Linked DNA regions of Homo sapiens: region 2 is linked to region 1. Evidence: fine-mapped QTL for protein levels in blood plasma. A gene starts in region 1. The other region holds a variant in brackets. All regions are shown on one strand. Distances are between the middles of the regions. Region 1 holds the start of KYNU (kynureninase). Region 2 overlaps KYNU (kynureninase).

What was found. PIP is the posterior inclusion probability: the model's chance that the variant is causal. Protein levels are from antibody-based Olink assays in UK Biobank. Linkage for the fine-mapping came from a reference panel and not from the study's own genotypes, which makes the PIPs less certain.
Region 2: its variant is fine-mapped to the plasma level of the KYNU protein (UK Biobank, PIP above 0.99).

Annotation. Positions count from the first base shown.
Region 1 is chr2:142,871,177-142,882,416 of GRCh38, forward strand. KYNU (kynureninase) reads left to right here and starts at 6,488. Exons shown (of 14, transcript NM_003937.3): 1 at 6,488-6,560.
Region 2 is chr2:143,026,499-143,037,738 of GRCh38, forward strand. It overlaps KYNU (kynureninase), which reads left to right. Exons shown (of 14, transcript NM_003937.3): 11 at 3,129-3,181; 12 at 6,738-6,823. Among named protein-coding and RNA genes, the nearest start is that of ARHGAP15, 97 kb to the right of the region's middle. The variant T/C (reference allele first, on the strand shown) is at 6,726.

The DNA of each region.
Region 1 (11,240 bases):
AAATAATAAAGCTAAAACTGTGCAAAAGAAAGCAATTTAAAATAATTAATACTGAAATCAGTAAAATAGAAATAAGCATAAAAGTGAGTTATGAAATAAACTAGGGAAAGAAATAAAAGGAATAAAAAAGAGTTAAAAAATGAATCAATATTAAAATAATAATAAAAAGAAAATATAAGAAACAAATTGGACAAAAGTGAAAGAGACAAGCAACTTCATTGGAAAAAAAAATGTTAAAAAAATAAGTTGAGGGGACCACACAGTGTCTCATACCTGTAATCCTGGCACTTTGGGTGGCCGAGGTGGGCAGATCGCTTGAGTTCAGGAGTTTGAGATTAGCCTGGGCAACGTGGTGAAAACCTGTCTCTACAAAAAATGCAAAAATTAGCCGGATGTGGTAGTGCGCACCAGTGGTTCCAGCTAGTTGGGGAGGTTCAGATGGGAGGATCACTCGAGCCCAGGAGGTGGAGGTTGCAATGAGCCATGATTACACCACTGCATTCTAGCCTGGGCAGCAGAATGAGTCCCTGTCTCAAAAAGAAAAAGAAAGAAAAAAAATAAGTTGAGGGTAAGGGGATACAGGGATCTCACTGTACTTTCTGCCCAATTTTGCTATGAACCTAAAATTGCACAATGGAATAGAATAAAATCTATATAAAAGAATAAACATTTTTTAAATTAAAAATAAGCTGAAAAGGAAAATACAGTTCAACACCATGTAAAACAACAAAATATGGTAAAACAATACAGCAGGGAAAAGCTGTAATTTATTTTAGACTGAATTAGTGTATCCTGAATAAAACGAATGATTACTGTTATGTAATTATGAGTGATATTGCTCAAAACTATTGCACATATACTTGGTTGTTTACTTTGTATGTTTGCAGGATTATTTAAACTTTGTATAATCTTTTTACAAAACAATTTAAGTATAGAATCTTTCCACTTTGGGAGGCCAAGGCGGGCTGATCACGAGGTCAGGAGATCGAGACCATCCTGGCTAACACAGTGAAACCCTGTCTCTACTAAAAATACAAAAACAAAATTAGACAGGCATGGTGGTGGGCGCCTGTAGTCCCAGCTGCTCAGGAGGCTGAGGGGAGAGAATGGCGTGAACCCGGGAGGCGGAGCTTGCAGTGAGCCGAGATTACGCCACTGCACTGCAGCCTGGGTGACAGAGCGAGACTCAGTCTCAAAAACAAACAAACAAACAAAAAAACAGACTCTTTCAAGGTGAAAATAAAACCTGTTTATCTGAAATAAATAATAATAATTAGCTCTGAGGAAAATAGATGTGATACAATTCCTTATCAACTTTTTTTTTAATTGAAACAGTATTTTGAAGCTTACACTCCTATTCTTAATCAAGCTTTGGAACTGAAATTAGCATAATTTCAGAAAATGAACAGGAAAGCTCATCTTTTTGTATGATCTGGAATAGTTTGAATAACATGAGGTTCTCCTAATCTTTAATGCTGTGCTAGAATTCATATGCAAAACTTTTCAAACGTAATGTTGCCTTCTATTTTTTTTTCTGTACTTCCTGGCAGTGGGGATGTTTCCTTTTATACAATAACTCTTTAAATGCATTTTTAATCTCCTCTAAAGGAATTGTTTTCTTCAAGTGTTTCTCTTATTTGGTCAGTTTTGAAAATTTGTATTTTGCTAACTAATTATATTTTTCCTCTAAATTACAAAAATATTTCTATAGAGGACACTATTTTCTTACATGAAGACAAGTTAAAATTTCAAATGCATTTGTCCTTTTCTGTTTCTTACTAGCTCTTATTCTTATCTAATACTCTGCATCTTCCTTGTCTAGATTCAGAGCCCCTCAGAAGCACTTTTCTTTGGCTTTTGGGGACATATTGCACCATTCTTCAGATCCTAGTCTAGTGAACTCTTTTCCCCTGCCTGCGATGTGGGGTTAAGACAATTTAGGAATTTGCTATATTTTGGTGTCTGTCATACTGTAAGCTATGAGAAGTTTCAAACGACTGGCAAAATGGTGGACCCATACTGGACACTTCCAAAATGGGAAATTTTACACCGTTTATTAGTGACACTAGAAAATACTTTGCCAGACAAACATAGGAAAAAGGACAAATCCCAGAAGAGGATCTTGAAGTGACATCTCCAAACATCAGCTCTACACTATCCCTGTTGATAGTCATTTTTAATATTAAGAAAAAAAATTTTCTGTTGTAAGTTGTTATGGTAAAAGAGGGCATGTACATCGTACCTTGTACTATAGAAAGAAACCCTGGTATATGAAAGCTTTGTCTTTAAATGGAGATTTTGTAATGCCTGTTCCCGTTTTCCAGAGTCATCATGACATCAATGATGTTGTTATGTGGTCAATGATGTCAATATGACTCAAGTCACTTTGGGTTTTTCATGTTTTACAGGAAACTCAGAAATTCCTCATGTAAACAATCAGACAATTGAGCAAATTGACCTGCAAACACATATAACAGAAAACTACTAAAGTTCTTCTGCTACCGCACATGATTTAGATTGCCTTCTATACCTTTGTGAGTTTAACAGTGAGGGAAAAGTTCTGATCTAGGAAAAAGGGAATGGGTTATAGGAATTTTAGATTCTAAATAAATTTTAATCACCAACTGGCAAAATGTCATTTGCTTATAACGAGCCCTTGCATTTTCCTCTGAAAAACTGAAAATACAACATATAGAGAGGGTAGGAAAGTCCCCGCCCATTACTGAGAAATTTTTCTAATAACCAGACTATGTATCTCACAGGAAGGAAAAAGTAGATTGTCTAAACATAGCCTAGTGATTTATTAGCATATTAATTTGCTTTGCCTTCCCTGTTGTAGGAGGGAGAGGGAGAAGAAAGGAGAGTATGGGTGAGGAAATGAGAGTGCAGTGGAGGGAAGAGAGAAAAAGGGAAAAAGAAAAGGAGAGAGAGAGAGAGAGGAAGAGAAGGCAAGAGGAGGGCATTAGAGAAAGAGGAGAGAAGGCAAGAAGAGGGAAAGAGGAGGGGGCAGCAGGAAAGGAAGGAGAGGGGAAGGAAGGACAGATAAGGGGAGAGGGAAGAAGAGAGGAGAGATAATTTTGTGTGTGCTCTGTTTTTTATATTTTCCCCTACCCATATAGAGAAGATGCTGTAGGTTCCTTGGCAGAAATTGCTTAAGGCAAATCTCATGACTGGCATTTGAGAAAGTTTTTGTTATGTTATATTGGTTATCCCCAAGGGGAAGTTTGGAAAGAGTGATTGGGTGTGCAAGGCCCCAGGGATATGGTGAGGGGAAAGGAGAGGCAGGAGGGCAGAGAGAAGGAAGCTAATCTGCCCCTCCCATCTGGGAACTTCCCAACACCCTGTGTAAAGAAGAAAGGAGAGTTCCAATAATGACTCAGAGTAAATTTTCCTCCTAAGAAGTCACATGTGAGCTCTGCGTTTTTATTTAATTAAGAAAAATAGCGTATTGTGAAATTTTCTGTTTACCCAAGTTTGAGACTGCAGTTTTTTTTATTAGTTCTTTCCTAACTTGTCTCTGTCTTTAATCTCATTACTCATTTCACATACTGAGCACCCAGCATTAGAGTGTTATGATCAGCCTGGTAGTGCAGCCTTGGATTCTTACATAAAGAGTTTGCTGATCTGAATTTAATTTAGTTAATGATCCAGCAAGCACCCATTTTAGTCTACTAAATGCTAGATACTGGCCTAACTATGGCGAAAATGCCCTGAAGAATAAGAATAAAGTTCATGGTTCAAGATTACCTTTTGAGAGGACAAAACTTTCCCATATTTCCAATAATCAATTTTTAGAAAATAAACTAGATCTTAATTAAAAAAAAACAAATTAACCAATTCAGTAGATATTTATTTAGCTCCATACATAGGTAGAGCTCTGAGGAGGATAAAATTAGTCTTTTCCTCTCGGAAACATATCATTTTATAAGCAGGATGCCATACCTGGAAATTAATAGACAACTCGGAATTGTACAACAGCTTATTCTGGCAACACTTTTTTTCTTCCTGTTTCCAAAAGGAAGGAATGGTATCTCACAGTGTTCTCTGTTTAACCTTGACTGCTGGCCCTGTAGCGGGTCTTGCTTTCACCCCTCCCCGCATGACTCGTTCTCTCATAATTCCCTTCTGTATTTAGCGGCCTATGTTATTATACAAGTTTTGCTCCCCATTACATCCCTGGCATTTCACTTTGTGCTTGGTACAGAGAATATGCTTAATACTTTTCTTGAATGAATGAAAGTGTCAACTGAAGAATGACAGGTTCATACATTTGGAAAGGAGAGCTTCATTTCACATAAAGGATTGCAGCCTGCAGGGTGATCATTCTGACCTCTGAAAAGTATAGCCTCTAATCAGAAGCTGGAAACAGACATTTTGAGGGAGGAGCAAAGGAAACAGAAATTTATGTTGAGCAGGGTAGCTGAATATATATATTCAATAAGCTATAGGGGAAGCCATGAATATTTGTGAAAGGAGAAATGTGCACATGCACAATGGAGTTTCATGCTTCTCCATGGGATCCGTGTTCAAAAAATGACAGCATTAATACAATCTGAGGGGGCAGTTTTCAGCCCAATGTGAAGCAGAGGACATGAAAACCTTTACTGCACATTCTCCATAGACTAGCCAGAAACATTCCATGATCAGTATTTTCTTTTTGTTCCAAACCACAAAAGAGAGGGATAACACCAGGTGATGGTTGATGTCATTGGTGTAATCTTTTGAAATGACTGGTTTCTTTTTAGCCATAGGGCAGAAAGCCTAATCATAGTTAGTGATGGAGCGGGTATGTGTTCCACTTCCTATCCTGTCATGGCCAAAAACTTAGTTTTCAAGTTTACTCTGGGATCCCCTTGGCCAAGAGCGTGTCCGTTCAGTTAATCTAGGGGCTTGGGATTTTATTTTTATTCCTCAAATGTAACAAATTTAAAGAAAGAAAGAAATTTATAAAACATAAGAAATAGAAGTATAGCTTAGACCTCCAAGCAAGTTCTTTAAAGGTGACAAGTTAAACAGTAGTTTTTAAGATAATATTTTGATGAAATTTTTAATCATATTATTACAAGATTTTAGAAGAAGCAAGATCTTGTGAAAACAAAACCTTAATGTCCATATCTAGCTCTCTAAATCTATAGTCAGTCTTTAAAAGAGTGACACAAAAATGACACAGATCCGCCCTCTGGTTCGCTCCCCATATATTAGAGCCTGGTAATCTTCCAAAGTTTTTACAGCATGAGGCATACACAGAATAGATGCAAAAAAAGTACACCTTCTGAAATTTCCTGAATGGATTCAAACTTTTACTATTCTAAGTTAATCAATTGGTAGTCTACTTACTTTATAGGATTATTGTAAGGATAGGATCAATGAAGTGAAATATATTTTATTTTCACTGGTCAATTACTCGTATTAAAGCAATTTCATGCACTTTATCTCCCTCTCTTGGAAACTGGAGAGTAGTACTTTTTGTCTGGTTACTTAAGATTAAAAAAAAGACAATATGTCACTTTTGACTTGAGTGTCATGGTATCTATGGCCTTCAACCTGCATGGTTTTATCGTTTCAGTAATCTTGGGAGGAAGGTATTATTAAGTTCATTTGATAAATAGGAGACTGAGCCTCCACAAGGGTTAAGTGAATTGCTCAGGGTTATACAATGAACACTTGATAGAAATGATTAAATGACACTTTACTTGATTTGTTGTGGGTTACTAAATAAAGCATAGGTGTGCATAAGTCATTCAATTATTCAAGCACATTCTTCATCCCTAGTCCTAATATCGAAAGTCTTTGCTCTTAGTTTTTATAACTACAAGGATATTCATCAAAAGACCCAAGCTCAGGAATAAGCCTAAAGAGGTAGTCAGACTAGAACAAAAGACAATTCACAGACTTAAATGAATAATTTGCATTAATGAAGTTTGCCAGGCTAGTTTCCACTTGAATCTTCAGATCTTTCTTCCTTCATTGTCTTGTTAACTGTCCAGATTTATTACCTAGGAGTTTTTGAAAACTCACATATTAGGCAATAGAGTGTATTCTGGAATTGAGAGCCTATTTTAAACTTTTGACTAAAAAGTTTACCCATTAAATGTCATAGATTCAACCATCAGACTGAAAATCCTCAGTGTATTTGAAGGAGGGTATTGTCTCAAAAATCCAGAGCTCAAAGTGAAGAAGAAAGGCAAAATTTGGAATTTAGCTCTAAGACCAACTCATCAGTTCAGGGGTCAGAGATTTATATAGTTAAAGGACAAGTGTGTGTTTACCTGAGTTTAAAGAGCAAAGTTGCCTCTGGAAAGAAGCCCTCACTGGAGGCTCTGGCATTTGAAATGGTGGGCAGGAGCACATGTTGCTTAAATTTCTGACAGTGGCTGGAGATTACCGATTGGTTAGGGGAGAGGAAGTAAAGTAAAATATTTATAAATTCTCCACTGGGTGGAGTCTGAGCAGTTCTTTGAATTTCTCACCCTAAGATCTGGCCTGTACATTTTCAAGGAATTCTTGAGAGGTTCTTGGAGAGATTCTGGGAGCCAAACACTCCATTGGGATCCTAGCTGGTAAGCTTGAGGCGCTGATAAAAACTCTCTACCCTAATGTTTACTCCATGTTTTTTCCAAATGAAACTTCTGTCAGCTAGAATCCTTGTCATAGTGTTTTAGAGGTTTTTTTCTGCTACTCTCTTCTTTTTTTATATATATTCTTTTTGTAAATAAAAATGGTATGACCTTCCTAAAGGCCCCACCTTTAGAAATGGGTTAAATGAAAAGATCTTTACTAATGTAATAGAAAAGAACTGATGAACATAGTGCACTGAATATGGTTACATTTGACAAACCAAAGTTAGTCCTGTTCTTATTTGAGTTTAAGCGGTAAGATTAGGTCAAACTCCAGACGAGGGAAAGATATTCTTAAACAGATTTTAAGTCCTCTGTTTTCTGGTAACTTTAATTGTCTTATGCTGCTAGTAGTCATATTAAATATTTATTTAGAGAAGTGAAAATGCCTACTCTTGAACAGAGTTTCTTCCCCTTTCATTTTATGAAACCTAAGAAAAGAAAGTTGATACACTTTTTAAAAATATACTAGATTTTCTTTTTTCCTTTCTGCTTTTATTTTGAGGCCAGTGGGGTGTTATTTAGTAGTAACACTGAAGCAAATGTATTGATTTTCTTAACGTGTTCAGCAAGTAATTCATATCCTAGATATGAAATATACACTCGTAGCAGAGTAATGTTACCCATTTCTCAATGATATGCTTAAAGAATCTTGCTCAATATGCATATTGTTTTTCCTTTTTTCTTTACTAATGAAAAACTACACGCTTTCTCAACATATTTTTAAGTCAGGTTCTAAACTTTGAACTCCTATGTACAATTTGCTTATTTCAGGCATGAATGTGAAACTGTGTAAAGATTAACTACCAGACACTCAGTCATTTATTTAACTATTTAGCCCTAAATCAGTGGGTGACTAGGAGATTCTGAATTCTGTGATTTCGTTAAAATCAATCAGTTTTTAATTATTATACAAGCTTTTTACTTTAAAGTTGTAGCTGTCTAAATAAAATTGTGAAAGCACAATTTCCAAACCTAAATCGAAGGCACATTGATGCTGTCCATCAGAAGGTATTGATAATTTAAAAAAATATTACAAACTATCTTTTATCTTTTTATAAAGGACCTAATGTCATTTGAGCTTAACCATAATCCTTTGAAGAAAGTAAAATTTAACTTTAAATAACATTGACATACAGAGCAGTTAGGTGATTTGTCTGAGACCATATGGTATGTATGTCCCCCGTCTTGATAAAATTAACACTAAATATGTAACATTTGAAAATTTGTAAAATATGTAAAAGTTGAAGTTTTTAAAAGTTTGGATTTAAGTTCTTCCTTTCAGAATATGAGCATGTCACTTTATTTGCAAACTAAACATGGCATAACATTATGGCTTGTGAACACTAATTGTCTTAGCTGCTGGGGTGAATGCAGAATTAAGCAGCAATTAGTATGAGTGAATAAATTGCATCCTTAGAGTGAGTGCACTATGCTATTCTGGGAACTAAAGACTATATTTGAGACCATGCGAAGTTGTGCAAGTGGTGGAGTAGGGCAGGGTGCAGTCATTTGGAAGACTATGCCCATCAGGTATCTCAAGGTACCCCAGATGTGACAGGCCCAGGAGCGGAACCAGCCACTTTAACTTTTGCCTGGCTGAAACTGGACTGGGAAGGATGGATTAAAAAGGTAAATCAATTCATACGTAGCTTGTGGTCCTTTGCAGCTTAAGTGTAGGACTGAAAAAAGAAGCCAAAGAAAAAGGGAATGAGCTGAAGAAATACACACACGTACACACACACATCAGGAAGCAACAGGCAAGGAAAAATAAAGTGAGAGGTTCAAGGCTTCGAGGAGGAATTGAGCTCTGTGCATTCCATTCATGGGCTTTGCCAAAGACCAGCACAATGGACTCAGCATCTCAGGCATGGTTAAGTACCCTACTGTGCACTCTGCTATCCTTTTAGTCCACTGGTTTCTACTCTGTCTGTGCCAGGTTTTCATCTCAATATAGAGGAAAAGGATTCTGATGCCTCAGGATTATTACAAGCATTAAATAAGATACAGATAGAATGACGCTAATGAGTATCATTTTTAAAATAAGGAAAGTTGAATTTTATTCAGAATCTGTTGGTAACAAACTAATCTCTTTATTTAAGTAACCCCACTTAGAGTTTAAAGTCACCTCCAATCAACTCAAAGGGCTGACCTCCCAAAGAAAGTCTCAAATATAAGGCAAGCTCTCTTGATTCTGAATTTCATTAGAAATGTTTGTCTAAGTCTTTCTCATATGGTCAGAATGAGAGAGGGTGCCCTTCTAGTAATATGTCATTATGTCAAATAATTCATCAACCAATTTTGTTTATTCTCTCGAACTGCCACTTTGGCGGCAGGGGTACTCTGTCTAAATGAGATGTCTATAAAGATAAATTAAACATGATTCAGGCCCCCAGGTAGAGTTCAGTTCAGTAGGGTAGAACAGCAACTCAGTCCAGCTACCATCAGTAATATGTTTGTAGTAAGACTAATCTGATAGTAAGGCAGAAAAACATCTCATGGAATTTTAGGAATAGCCAAGAAGATGGGTCCCCTGGAGACTTGCACATAGCATGTTGCATGAAGGATTCAGTGACTTGCAAGATGGGCTTGTCTTGTCACCTTTTCAGGAGACATAGCTGTTCAATCCCTTGCCATTGTGTAACTAAGTGACTCTTACTTGCTGCTGGAATCACTTCATGCTTTTCATGCTTTAACAATCAGTGGTTCTGTTTTACTTTGAAAAATGAGTCATTCTATGACAGTATTCCTCCTAGACCCTAGCATTTCATAGCTTCTATCTATGATTATTTTAAATTCTAGCTCCTGTATCTAACTGAATGAATAAGCACATCCCACAGCTCAGATTCCTGAAAGAATTTGATTATGTACTCAGCTAAACATCATCACTGTTTGGTTAGAGCTTTTATAGCAAATAATTCACAGATCTTTGATGAAACTACATTGTCTTTAGTGGGTAAGTGTCCAACAGAGGTCTAATAAACTATGACCAGGCAATTGATAATGCCAAGCGGTAGAGACACAGTGATCTCTCTTCAAAATGCAGTTTCCTTCATCAGAAAGCTATGTGTGGGGAGCCATTTAGAATCAAGTTTCAGGCATAGCAAATGTTTTTGATCTTTCCTATCCATACATATGTCCAAATAAATATAGTACCTGGCAGAATGTATTATTATCGTAAGTAAAGTACATAAGTGTGCTCTTAATTGTTATTGGTGTTCAGAGGAAGACGGGCTACTTTTGCCTGAGACATCCTAACAGGCCTCTTGAAAAAAGCATTGGAGCATTAGGTCTTTGAAGGTTGGCTAGAATCCAAACAAGTTGAAGGGGAGCAAAACATTTTAGGCAAAGGAAATGGCATGAGAAAAATCACAGAAATAGAAAATTTCATGTGGAGGACAAATAATACTTATGGTCAGATATTGAAAGCACCATCCATCAATGTTGAAATCCTACACTTTTGTACAGAACCATGGATTGAAGCAGTTAGGAGTCACAACTGATATCAAAGTAAAAAACATGCAATGGTGAACCTTGGTATCTTTGTCTAGGAATATAAAGAATGGCTTATCAGTGGAGACCATCGACAGTTGAGAAAAGAAGAAGCCCAAAAAGTACAAGAATGAAAATCGAGAGTGTAAGAAGAATGTCTGTTTTACTGGCATTATCTAACACTCAGATATGCAACTCTTTATTGCCAAACACTGTGTGTGTTAGTTAAGGTAAAAGGTGAAGGGAGGCAGAAGAATGGAGATTGAATTGAATTCTAGAGCTTTAGTTCTGTGTGAGTTTGGGCCCCCAGAAGTTCTAGACATTAAGTACAGTCTGAATTGAGAAATATTAAACATATCTTGTGATCCAATATTCCCCTAAGTTATACACTCAAATATCCAATGACCAGCTTGACATTTCTACCTGCATGTTCAATACTTATTTGAAACTTAATATATCCTAAATATAATTTTTTTTTAAACAGTCATGCTCTGTTGCCCAGGATGGAGTGCAGTGGCACAATTAGCTCACTGCAACCTCAGACTGCTGGTCTCCTACCCCATCCTCCTCGGTAGCTAGGACCACAGGTGCATGCCAGTGCCAGCACACCTGGCTTTTCTTTTCTTTTTTCTTTTTTTTTTTTTTTTTTTGTAGAGATGACATCTTGCTACGTTGTCCAGACTGGTCTCAAACTCCTGGCTTCAAGCAATCCCCTGCCTCGGCCTCCCAGTGCTGGGGTAACAGGTGTGAACCACCACAACCAGCCTGCTAAACTGAATTCCAATTTCCCTCCTCAAAATTTTTCTTCCCCAGGTATTTTTATTTCATCATATTTCACATATTTGCCCATATCCCAAAGCTAGAAGAAAGCTCCTTTCCTGTCCTCACTAGAAATAATCTATCCACCAGTCCTATCTACTTTTTCTCCAAACTACATCATAAATCCACACTCTTCTCTCTACCTTTGCCCTCATCACCAAATTTAATTCACCACCGTTTCTCTCCTGAACTACTGTGTTATCCTTAATCGGTCTCCCTTTTCAACTTTTTTTTTTTAATTATACTTTAAGTTCTAGGGTACATGTGCACAACGTGTAGGTTTGTTATATATGTATATATGTGCCATGTCAG
Region 2 (11,240 bases), 160 kb after region 1:
ATGAGTGCTGGAATCGGCTGGCCACTTGGCGCTGGTAGGACCCAACCCCACTCACTCGGACCTGCAGCGTTCCACCCCTCATGGGAGGGAGCGCACAGGTGAGCAGGTGTAGGAACTGACCCCACACTTTAGAACCGGCAGGATTGAACTCCATGCAGGCCCCACAGCAGACTCCAACCGGGGGTGCCTGCGACTCTCAGAGCCCCAGAGGGCACGTTACAGTGCTCTTTTAGCTCTGCTGTCCGCAGTCCGCAGTCCGCAGTCCGCATTAGTGTTAATAGCTCAGTGGGGCCTCTGACTTTTCACATGAGGCGGCTGCCTTCCACCAGCCAGGGTGAAGAGCCAGTGTGACAGCCAGACTCTTCTCGAAGTTACGAAGTTACGCCACCAAGCTGTCCCTCTGAAGTCAAGCCACTTCTCTCCGATGCCCAGCTGTATCCTGTCTACTGGCTGAGTCTGGGATTAATATAGGCACAGGATGGGGCGGGGTGGGGCCATGAGTGGTTTAGGAAAAAGCAACATTTGAGCGGGAAAACAGGGATAGAAGTTCTCACTTTGGGCTGTGGTTTCAGGCTTTTCAGCTTGAGGGTAGGAATTCCTGGGGACCTACTCTTTTCTGCCTAGATTTTCTGTGCCTGCTGTTCCCTATCACTAATACACAAATCTTGGTGTACTTCAAATAGTGTAATCCAAATAGTGTAATCCAATTTAGATAAATTGGAAGGAGTAAAATTTCTGGGACAGAAAACAATGCATATTTCCCATATATCTTCTTAAATTGTCCTCTAGAAAGATTTTATTACTTATTTATTATCATTATTCAACAGTGGTTGATTTCCTTTTCTTTGAATCTTTAATGAAAATATGCATAATTTTAAGTCATTTTGTATATTTGATATATAAAATATGGTCTCATCTTTACATTATAGTGTGAAACATTAGTGAGATTGAGGTGTTTTTGTTTGTTTTGTTTGCTTCTCCTGAATTCATGGGGCACAGACATTTCTCCTTTATAAACTGCCTGTCCCTGCTCTGTAGCTGGGTTGCTCTTGGTACATTGTCCTTTTTCTATGTAAAAACTCTTAGTGAAAACTCTTTCATATGGGACAAATATCACTTCTCTTCCCCATCTCTGGTTTGCCTTGCAATTTTGTCTGTCTTTTTAATACAGAATTTTAAATGTTTATAAATCTGTTGGTATGTTCCTTTGAATTTTCTTCTGTTTTATACTTAGAAATTTCTGTTTTGAAAATCATGAGTATGTAAATATAATTTTTTCATTTTTGCATTTTGGAAATGTCATAATTAAGAGGTGATAATTGTGACATGATCTGAGGACTGTTTCTGTATTTACCGTCATATCTCATTTGTCTCACTGATGTTTCTTTACTAGAATTAGTCTCATTTATGTACTGCATTTTATAATATGCAATATTATCATATAAAGCATATAAGATACTATTACAAGATAATATAGCATATTCCTCACTATACTTTTCTATTCTATATAAATTTTAAAACATTTTGTCATCTCCCAAAAAATAGTGTCTTGGAATTTTTATTTGGACATCACTAAAACTAAAATATTTAGGGATAATTGATCAGAAGCAACATGATATTTCTCTTTCTAAATTTTTTATATTTTTCTCTAAATTGTTTTATAGTCTTTTTCATGTAATATATACACACACGTATGTGATTTTCCCTATATATTTTGTATTTTATGTCTGGCTTATTTTACATTCTTTTTTTTTTTTTTTTTTTTGAGATGGAGTCTCACTCTGTCACCCAGGTTGGAGTGCAGTGGCTCCATCTCGGCTCACTGCAACCTCCCCCTCTGGGTTCAAGCGATTCTCCTGCCTCAGCCTCCTGGTAGCTGGGACTACAGGTGTATGCCACCACGCCCGTCTAATTTTTGTATTTTTAGTAGAGACGGTGTTTCACCATGTTGGTCAGGCTGGTCTCAAACTCCTGACCTCATGATCCACCCGCCTTGGCCTCCCAAAGTGCTGGGATTACAGGTGTGAGCCACAGTGCCTGGCCAACATTCTTATTAACAATATGAGGCCAGGCGTGGTGGCTCAGGCCTGTAATCCCAGCACTTTGGGAGGCTGAGGCGGGCTGATCACCTGAGGTCGGGAGTTCAAGACCAGCCTGACCAACATGGTGAAACCCCGTCTCTACTAAAAATACAAAAAAGTTAGCCGGGCGTGGTGGCACATGCCTGCAACCCCAGCTACTTGAGAGGCTGAAGCAGGAGAATTACTTGAACCCGGAAGGCGGAGGTTGTGGTGAGCCAAGATTGCTCCATTGCACTCCAGCCTGGGCAACAAGAGCAAAACTCTGTCTCAAACAAAACAAAACAAAACAAAACAAAACAAAAACAATATGAAAGCAACCAATTTCCTTTAAAAGTATTTTTAAAACTTTCAACAATTGTATGGGCTTTTTGGGTACATTTCTCTTTAGAGATTCTATTGTGAAAATATTGTATTAATTGTTTGACCTTTTTGAGCTTTTAGCTTAATTTTAAAATAAAAACTGCTTAATATTTTTGTTCATTTTATATTAAATAAAAACCGGTCATTAACTATAACTCTTAAGTTGACATTTCACACAAAAATAATAATAGAGATGGATAGATTTTTATCCTCATTCTTTTAATTATAAATATTAATTACCATATGATACCAGATAGTATTTTATCTGCTGAAGTATTTGATGACTTATATTACAAATGGCTTTATAATGCAGGCCCCAGATTTCTAAATTAGTAGTGTTTATTTTTATAGATCAAAATATCATGTCCAGTCACAGTGGCTCATACCTGTAATCCCAGCAGTTTGGGAAGCCAAGGCTGATGAATCACTTGAGCTCAGGAACTCAAGACCAGCCTGGCCAACATGGTGAAACCCTATCTCTACTAAAAAGACAAAAACTAGCCGGGCATGGTGGTGCATGCTTGTAGTCTCAGCTACTTGAGAGGCTAAGGCACAAGAATCGCTTGAACCCAAGAGGCAGAGGTGGCAGTGAGCTGAGATCACGCCACTGCACTCCAGCCTAGGCAGCAGAGCAAGACTCCATCCAAAAAAACCCCCAAAAACCTAATGTTTTTATTTATATTTTAGATTAGTGGGATGGTTTGGCCATGAACTCAGCACCAGATTTAAGATGGATAACAGTAAGTGTATTTATTTTACCTAATGCCATTTTTATTTTAACTTTATTTCAATGTTCATCTGTCTTTGTATTATGTGTAATGTATATGCCCCAGGGAGAGTGCACTTCAAAAATGTCACTGAGAATTCTCAAATAAGAAATGACATTTCCAGAGTGTAAGACTAAGAGTTTATAGATTTTAGCATGATTTTGAGTCTATCCCTTAGCAGGGAGATAAAAGAAAATGAAGTCCAAGGTAAGGGTCATGTGGCTTGGTCAGGTGCCATCAACATAGAGTGCCTGAAACACTGGGCATGGAGGACAGGAGGAAATTTGGGGCTTGGAGTCAGATCCAGAAAGACCTGGGTGTTAATCACACTTTGCTGCTTAATAGTTTTTTGATCCTGCACAAGTTATATCATCTTGTGTCATTGTTTTTTCTTTCCCACTTATCTAATGTGAATAATAAAATCTATTTAAAGATTTGGTTTTAGGGTTAGTCAAGCTCAAAACAATAAGCCAAGTAGGACACAGCAGTACCTTAATAAATACTCATTTTCACTCCTCTTTTTTCCTATTTTCCTTTTGTGGCTTTTGCCATGTACCAAAGAGTGTAGCAATTCCTGTGAGCAGTTAACCCCAGCAGATAGAAGTGAAACTCTACCATGCAGAGCTTCCTTTTCCTGCATGACCTCATTTCTCAATCACATGGGATGCAGAAAGATCATACGTGCTTTGAGAGTTCAACATAAACTTGATCCTTCAGATTGCTTTAAACCCTGAGATACTGTTTTAAATTTGTTTTCATTTTTTATTGACTTTATTTTTTTGTTTTTGAAACAAGGTCTTGTTCTGTCACCTAGGCCGGAGTACAGTGGTGCGATCAGGCTCAGTTCAGCCTTGATATTCCTGGCTCAAGCAATCTTCTCGCCTTAGCTTCCTAAGTAGCTGGGACTAGAGGTGTGCACCACCATGACTGGATGATGATGATGATGCTGATTATTATTATTATTATTTAGTGGAGATGAGGTCTTGCTATGTTGTCCAAGCTGGCCTGAGATAATATTTTATATATATAGGTGCTCTTTGACTTACAATGGGGTTATTTCCTGATAAGCCCATCATAAGCTGAAAATATCATAAGTAAAAAATGCATTTAATACACCTAATCTATAGAACATCATAGCTTAGCCTAGCCTACCTTAAAACACATTCAAAACACTTACATAGCCTAGAGTTGGGCAAAACCATCTAACACAAATCCTATTTTATAATAAAGCATTGAATATATTATATGATTTATTGAATACTATACTAAAAGTGGAAAACACAATGGGCGTATGGGTAGTCGAAGTATGGCTTCTACTTAAGATGTACTGCTTTTGTATCACTGTAAAATTGAACAATTTTAAGTCAAACCATTGTTAAGTCAGGGACCATTGGTATGCAGATTTGTAGCAACCAAATTGCAAAATGGGATATTCCAGTCAAGTCAGGATACCTGTATTTTACCTTGGCTGCTAAAATAATTAGATCTGTTATTATACCAGTTATTTAAATTCTTTGAGATGGGTTTTCTTATTTGGAAATAAAGGAATTGAATTTGATCAGGGGTAGCAAACTTTTTCTGTGAAAGGCCAGATAGGAAATATTTTAAGCTTTCTAGGCTATACAGTCTCTGTGGCAAATACTCAATTCCGTCATTGTGGTGGTAAAGCAGCCATAGGTGATACATAAGTGAAAGATTGTGGCTATGTTTTCATAAAACTGTATTTTAAAAAGCAGGGCCTGGCACGAAGACTCACGCCTGTAATCCCAGCACTTTGGGAGGCAAGGCAGATGGATCAATTGATCACAGGAGTTTGAGACCAGCCTGGGTGACATAGTGAGACCTTGTCTCTATAAAAACTACAGAAATTAGCCAGGAGTGGTGGTATGCATCTGTAGTCCCAGCTACTTGGGAGCCTGAGGCGGGAAGATCACCTGAGCCCGGGGAGGTCAAGGCTGCAGTGAGCCATGATTGAGCCACTGCACTCAGGCCTGGGTAACAGAGTGATACTCTGTCTCAAAAACAAAAACAAAACTAGTGGGTCAAATTTGGCCCACAGGCCATATGGCCATATATTAGTCTGTTTTCACACTGCTATAAAGATACCACCTGAGACTCAGTAATTTGAAAAGGAAAGAATTTTAATTGACTCACAGTTTCACATGGCTGGGGAAGTCTCAGGAAACTTACAATCATGTCAGAAGGCAAAGGGAAAGCAAGGCACATATGAGGTGATGGGAGGTGAGAGAGAGAGAGAAAGAGAGAGAGTGCATAAAAACTGCTGTTTTTGGCCGGGCGTGGTGGCTCACGCCTGTAATCCCAGCACTTTGGGAGGCCAAGGCGGGCGGATCACGAGGTCAGGAGATCGAGACCACCCTGGCTAACACTGTGAAACCCCATCTCTACTAAAAATACAAAAAAATTAGCTGGGCGTGGTGACAGGCACCCGTAGTCCCAGCTACTCGGAAAGCTGAGGCAGGAGAATGGCGTGAACCCGTGAGGCGGAGGTTTCAGTGAGCCAAGATCGCGCCACTGCATTCCAGCCTGGGCAACAGAGCGAGACTCCATCTCAAAAACAAAAACAAAAAAAAAAAACAAAACAAAAAAAACTGCTGTTTTTAAAACCATCAGATCTTGTGAGAACTCCTTCACTATCATGAGAACGGCATGCAGGAAACTGCCCCCATGATCCATTCACCTCCCATCAGGTCCCACCCTCGACATATGGGGATTACAATTCAAGATGAGATTTGGGTGGGGACTCAGAGCCAAACCATATCACCATAGTTTGCTTAATCCTGGATTTGATAACTATAAAAAAGTCATCAAGTTTTAACATTCTTTTAGTCAGTCATAGTGTTAACTTATCTCTGACTAGCTATCTTAACCCTATTGAATTTAACTTGCTACAGTTCAATCTGCTTAATTCTAATTAGTAGAGCATCTGTTATTAATTTACCTTTTTTATATACTTAGGCAGATCTTTTTTTTAAAGCTCCCTCTATTGTGTGTGTGTGTGTGTGTGTGTGTGTGTGTCTGTGTGTGTTCTGTAAGAGAAACCACTTGACCTAACAATCCTAGAGCTAAAAGTCAGCTTCATAGGTCATTTCATTCATATTTCTGCCTTTGGGAGACATTACAATTACATGCCACTAAAAGCTGATGCTCTCTCTCATTGACATGGTTTCATAATAGAATAGCAAATGTTGAGCAGAATAAGGAATCCTGGCTTGGGAATAGGAAGGCAGAGAATGAGATCCAGAAAAACTTCCAGAAGAGGTCATTTTTACCTTGGGTCTAAGATTTCTGGTGTTCTGCTAAGAAGTTGGGGACAAGGGAGGTGGGAACTGCTGGTAAACGGGAAATAACGTCGATATTTTAGTTCCATGGAGCTTATCTTAAATATCTCAGAAATCCTACTTAGGAAGAAAAGTTTAAGTCTTGCTCTTTTACTCTCCAGTACTCTAGTATCTTTATGGACACTTTTAAAGTTACCTTCTATGATAATGACATGATA[T/C]TAATTTCTCAGAACTGCAGTTAATCCCTGGGGTCTGTGGATTCCGAATTTCAAATCCTCCCATTTTGTTGGTCTGTTCCTTGCATGCTAGTTTAGAGGTAAGTGATGTGTGTTTCAACCTTCCCACATCTTTGCGTTTTTTCTTGATCTGTTTGTGACAATTCATAGTACTTTCTCTGCTACACAGCAAGATGATACATGTGCACTGTGCATGAACAAGGGACAGAAGGCAGCATTCCCCTTTAGGACAGTGATGATGTGGTGAGGGTCTCCCTTCATTCATGTCACCAGCCCCCAGCACAATGCTTGGCACATTGTTGGCACATAGTAAATATTAAATGGAACTCTTTTGGGGAGATACGTTTTTTACTCCACTTAGAATCTGTTTAAACATGAATAAGTTATTTAACCTTCTCTTGGCCTCTCTTTATACCAAATAAGCATGCAATATTTAGTTCTTCATAAATTCGCTCATTCAACATAAATTTATTGAGAAAATATTGTGTGCCTGATGTGATTACTAGGGACTGTACTTTTTCTAGTTCATTGTAGGTGAATGAACTGACCAAGTACCATGTGACAAAGCTAGGAAAGACTTACTTGAAGGAAAAAAGAATAATCAGAGTAAACCAAAGATTAAATAAGGTTGTCTCATAAGGTAGGGTGGTTTTATGATTTTTTTAAATTGGGACTTCTATGCCATTATGTCCATTTATAGTCTCCACTATCACTGACTCAATATTTTCCTTTAAATTAATTTATATTTTTATTTAGGTAAATTTAGTCTCACCCTGAAATGATAAATATACATAACAAGAAAATGAAATTGTGATTCCTTAGATACTATTATTTAGTGTTAGACTAAATGTGGCCAAGTAAAAATATATAGGTTATATAGTATAAAATTCATATATAATGTAAATGTATAAATATTTACATAAATAATGTAAATATATAAAGTAATTGTATATTTTGTATACCTATATTTAAGTAAAATATATTTTAAGTAAATGTGCATATATATTTCTAATAGAAGTTTTACATAGAACTATTCAAACAAGGATTTGAAATTTTTTCATGTCTCCTTCTAAAATCATGTAGTTTATGATATTTTGGCAAAAACTTATAGAGGATTTCAGCATCAAATGAGTGACAGGATGAAGATTCAAAATTCCTTCTAATCTAAAATTGCATAATTCTGTGAACACTTACAGCAGTTTCTCATTCTGGCCACTGGATGGCAGCATCAAGTTCCTCTGTTTTTATTAAATTTCACCACTGGATAGTGATCATCACCTCATTTCATTCTGTCTCAATTTAAAGCGCACCTACTCAGTTTAACCACTAGATGGAGCTTGTGTTGTTTTCACTTCATGGCAGAATTTTTCTTTAACTTGGAAAATAGACACAGTAACGAGATTTTTCAGCCAGTGATATATATTTTTGACAGTTTTTTGAGTAAAAATCTGCTTAGTAAATCAGATAATGATATTTGAGTTGTTTTTATAGTATCCATTCAGATAAATATTTTGTTTAAACATTTTAAAACAAAATAAAGTTTCTGCATTCCTTGCAAGTTTGTATCAGCGAGATGTGTGACAATATCAGAAGCACCAGGACATACCTTAGGAAGAGCTTGTACCTAAAGTAATTTCCTCTGGTGCCCATATCTTTGCAAATAACTTCTCAGACGTACCTGGAAATTTCCTTTTAGACGCCTTCACTTTGGCATACTTTCTGCAGTGGACTGGCTTTTCTAGTAGTATTCACCCTTCTCTTGTGGGAAAGGAAGCACATTCCTATTCTTCCAGCCACTGTTTTCCTACCACACTGTATTAGAGTCACCTAGACAAAGTTTTTATTTTCAGTTATAATCTGAGAACTGATTTATTTTTTCTTTTTAATATCTAAACTTAAACCTCAGCCTCCTGAGTAGCTGGGACTACAGGTGTGCACCGCTACACCAGGCTAATTTTTGTAGTTTTTTGTACAGATAAAGTCTTACTATGTTACCCAGTCAATATCTAAACTTAAAACCCTAAAAGCCACAAGAAGAATGATATGCATTTCTCTGGATCTTCTAATCACTTACATATTTCCCTTGAGCCTCTTTCTGCTCATTTCACTGCTGAGACTATGTTCTAACCAAAATTATCTTTAGTTAATCAAGCCTTATGTTGGTAAAAGTGTTTTTTCAAAATTCTTTCCTACTGTAAATTGCAAAATTTTTGAATTACAAACTAATGCATTGAATTGCTTCCCTTTCTCTGTTAAAATGTCTTATTTTCTAGACATTTATGGGTTTCTCATGTGAGTAAACATCAGTGAATTAACTATGCTTCTATTAATACTTACCTTCCTTTAAGTTTTATTTATTTATATTTAGAGATGAGGTCTTGCTCTGTTGTTCAGACTGGAATGCAATAGTACGATCATGGCTTAGCATGGCCTCAAACTCCTGGGGTTCAAGTGATCCTCCTGCCCCCACCTTCCAGGTAACTGGGACTGCAGGACTGCACCACCACACTTGGCTGATTATTATTATTTATTTATTTTATTTCTTTATTTTTGAGACAGGGTCCCCTTCTGTCACTCCTAGAGTGCAGTGATGGGATCTCAGCTCACTGCAACCTCTGCCTCCTGGACTCAGTTGATCTTCCCACCTCAGCCTCCACAGCAGCTGGGACTACAAGAGTGCACCACCATGCCCGACTAATTTTTGTATTTTTTTATAGAGACAGGATTTTGCCATGTTGCCCAGGCTGATCTTGAACTACTGGCTGCAAGTGGTCCTCCTGAGTAGCTAAGACTACAGGGCATGCCACTGTGCTCAGCTTATTTTTAAATTTTTTTAGAGATGAGGTCTGGCTATGTTGTCCACGTTAATCTGGAACTCCTGGCCTCAAGCGATTCTCCTGCCTCAGTCTCCTGTTTGAAATGTTTGTTTTTCAGTGCTATAAAGAAATAGCACTTGAACGCAAATTTAATTTATTTAGTAAGGCCATTTTTACTTCCTGCAGAGAGGATACACTCGCCAGCAGTTTTGCCATGAGAGTACACCGAACAAAGGAGACAGGGTCATTTATAACCTGACGTGTCCACCCTACTGCTGTGTCCAGTTCCAATGGCTGGAATGGGACCTCCCATTCTGTATTTGTCCCGATTGGCTAGTAACTTAGAACTTTTTAAAAGACGTAAAGGTAGAGGGTAACAAAGGAAGGAGGAAGTAACTTGTGGAATGCTAAGAAAGGTAAAAACACTTTTAAATAAGGAAGAGGAACAGGCTGTGACCTAATGCTGCTTGGACCAGTATAAGCATGCCAGGGCAAATATTTAGGCTAAATTGTGGGAGCTAAAAACATAAAGTATATTGATTTATTTATTACAGCTAGCAGATATTTAAGAATGTTAGCACAGGTCTTTGAATAAATTTTGCTTCTAAGAGAAGTTACTATTTATTCCTAATTAGACGGGAAGGAAAGTCTTTGAAGAGGAACCTCTACTTTACTTTTTATACTCCTAAGCAGTTGGGATGACAGACGTGAACCACTGCACTCAGCCACCTTATCTTTTTAAACCAGTTTATTCCATTTTAGGAGATAGGTGGTTGAAGTTTCAATAAACGAAAGAAGTAAATGCATGAATCAAACTGCCTCTTTGTTGTCTCTACTTTTAAGAAATATTCAACACAGTCAAATACGAACTGGAGGAGAGATTCTATACTTAAGAATCAATCACATATAAATAAGACCTTAGATTTTTAATGCAATGACTTTTTAAAAAGATATTAATATGGCTTTTTTTAATAAATACATGTGTATATGGTTGATTGATATAAAAAATAGCACATTGTAATCAGTTTCAAACTGTCCTTTTGTTTATATTTTTTTATCTGAATCATTTATACAATAGTTCTTAAAATATTGTGGATCAAGGGATGAAGCCTGAGGCCAGGAACCTGGTGGCAAGTACTCTCTCCCTCAATGGACACGAAGTGTGACCTTACACAAGCAACAACTCCCTTTGGATGTATTTGCCTTATTTTTTAAAGTAAGATGTTTGGACAAGATTATTTTGGAAGTCTCCTCACTTTCCAAAATACTTAAATTTAAACAATACGTATATTATATTTTGAGGGTTCATATTTATGTGTAGCGATAGGTAGACAATATTTAGTCCCTTTCAGTATTCTGAATTCATAATGAAATAAATGGCTTCAAAATACAAAGTTAGAGCATTCAATTAAAATACATGGCGAGTCAGAAGACTCAACAAAGAAATGTACTATACGTTTCCTTTCAAATTTCCTAGAGAGACAGTTTTAAGAATTTAAGAGAAAAATATGACAATTGAAAACATCACACCAAACTTATTTTTCCTGTTTAAACTTATCTAGCTTTTCAAGCTTTGTGTTCATTTTGTCAGTAAGAAAAAAAATACAAGTAGTTGAAACTCTGCAAAGTATTATCTTCTAAGCTGAATATTTTTCAAACCACAGTTTTCATTTTTTCTAAT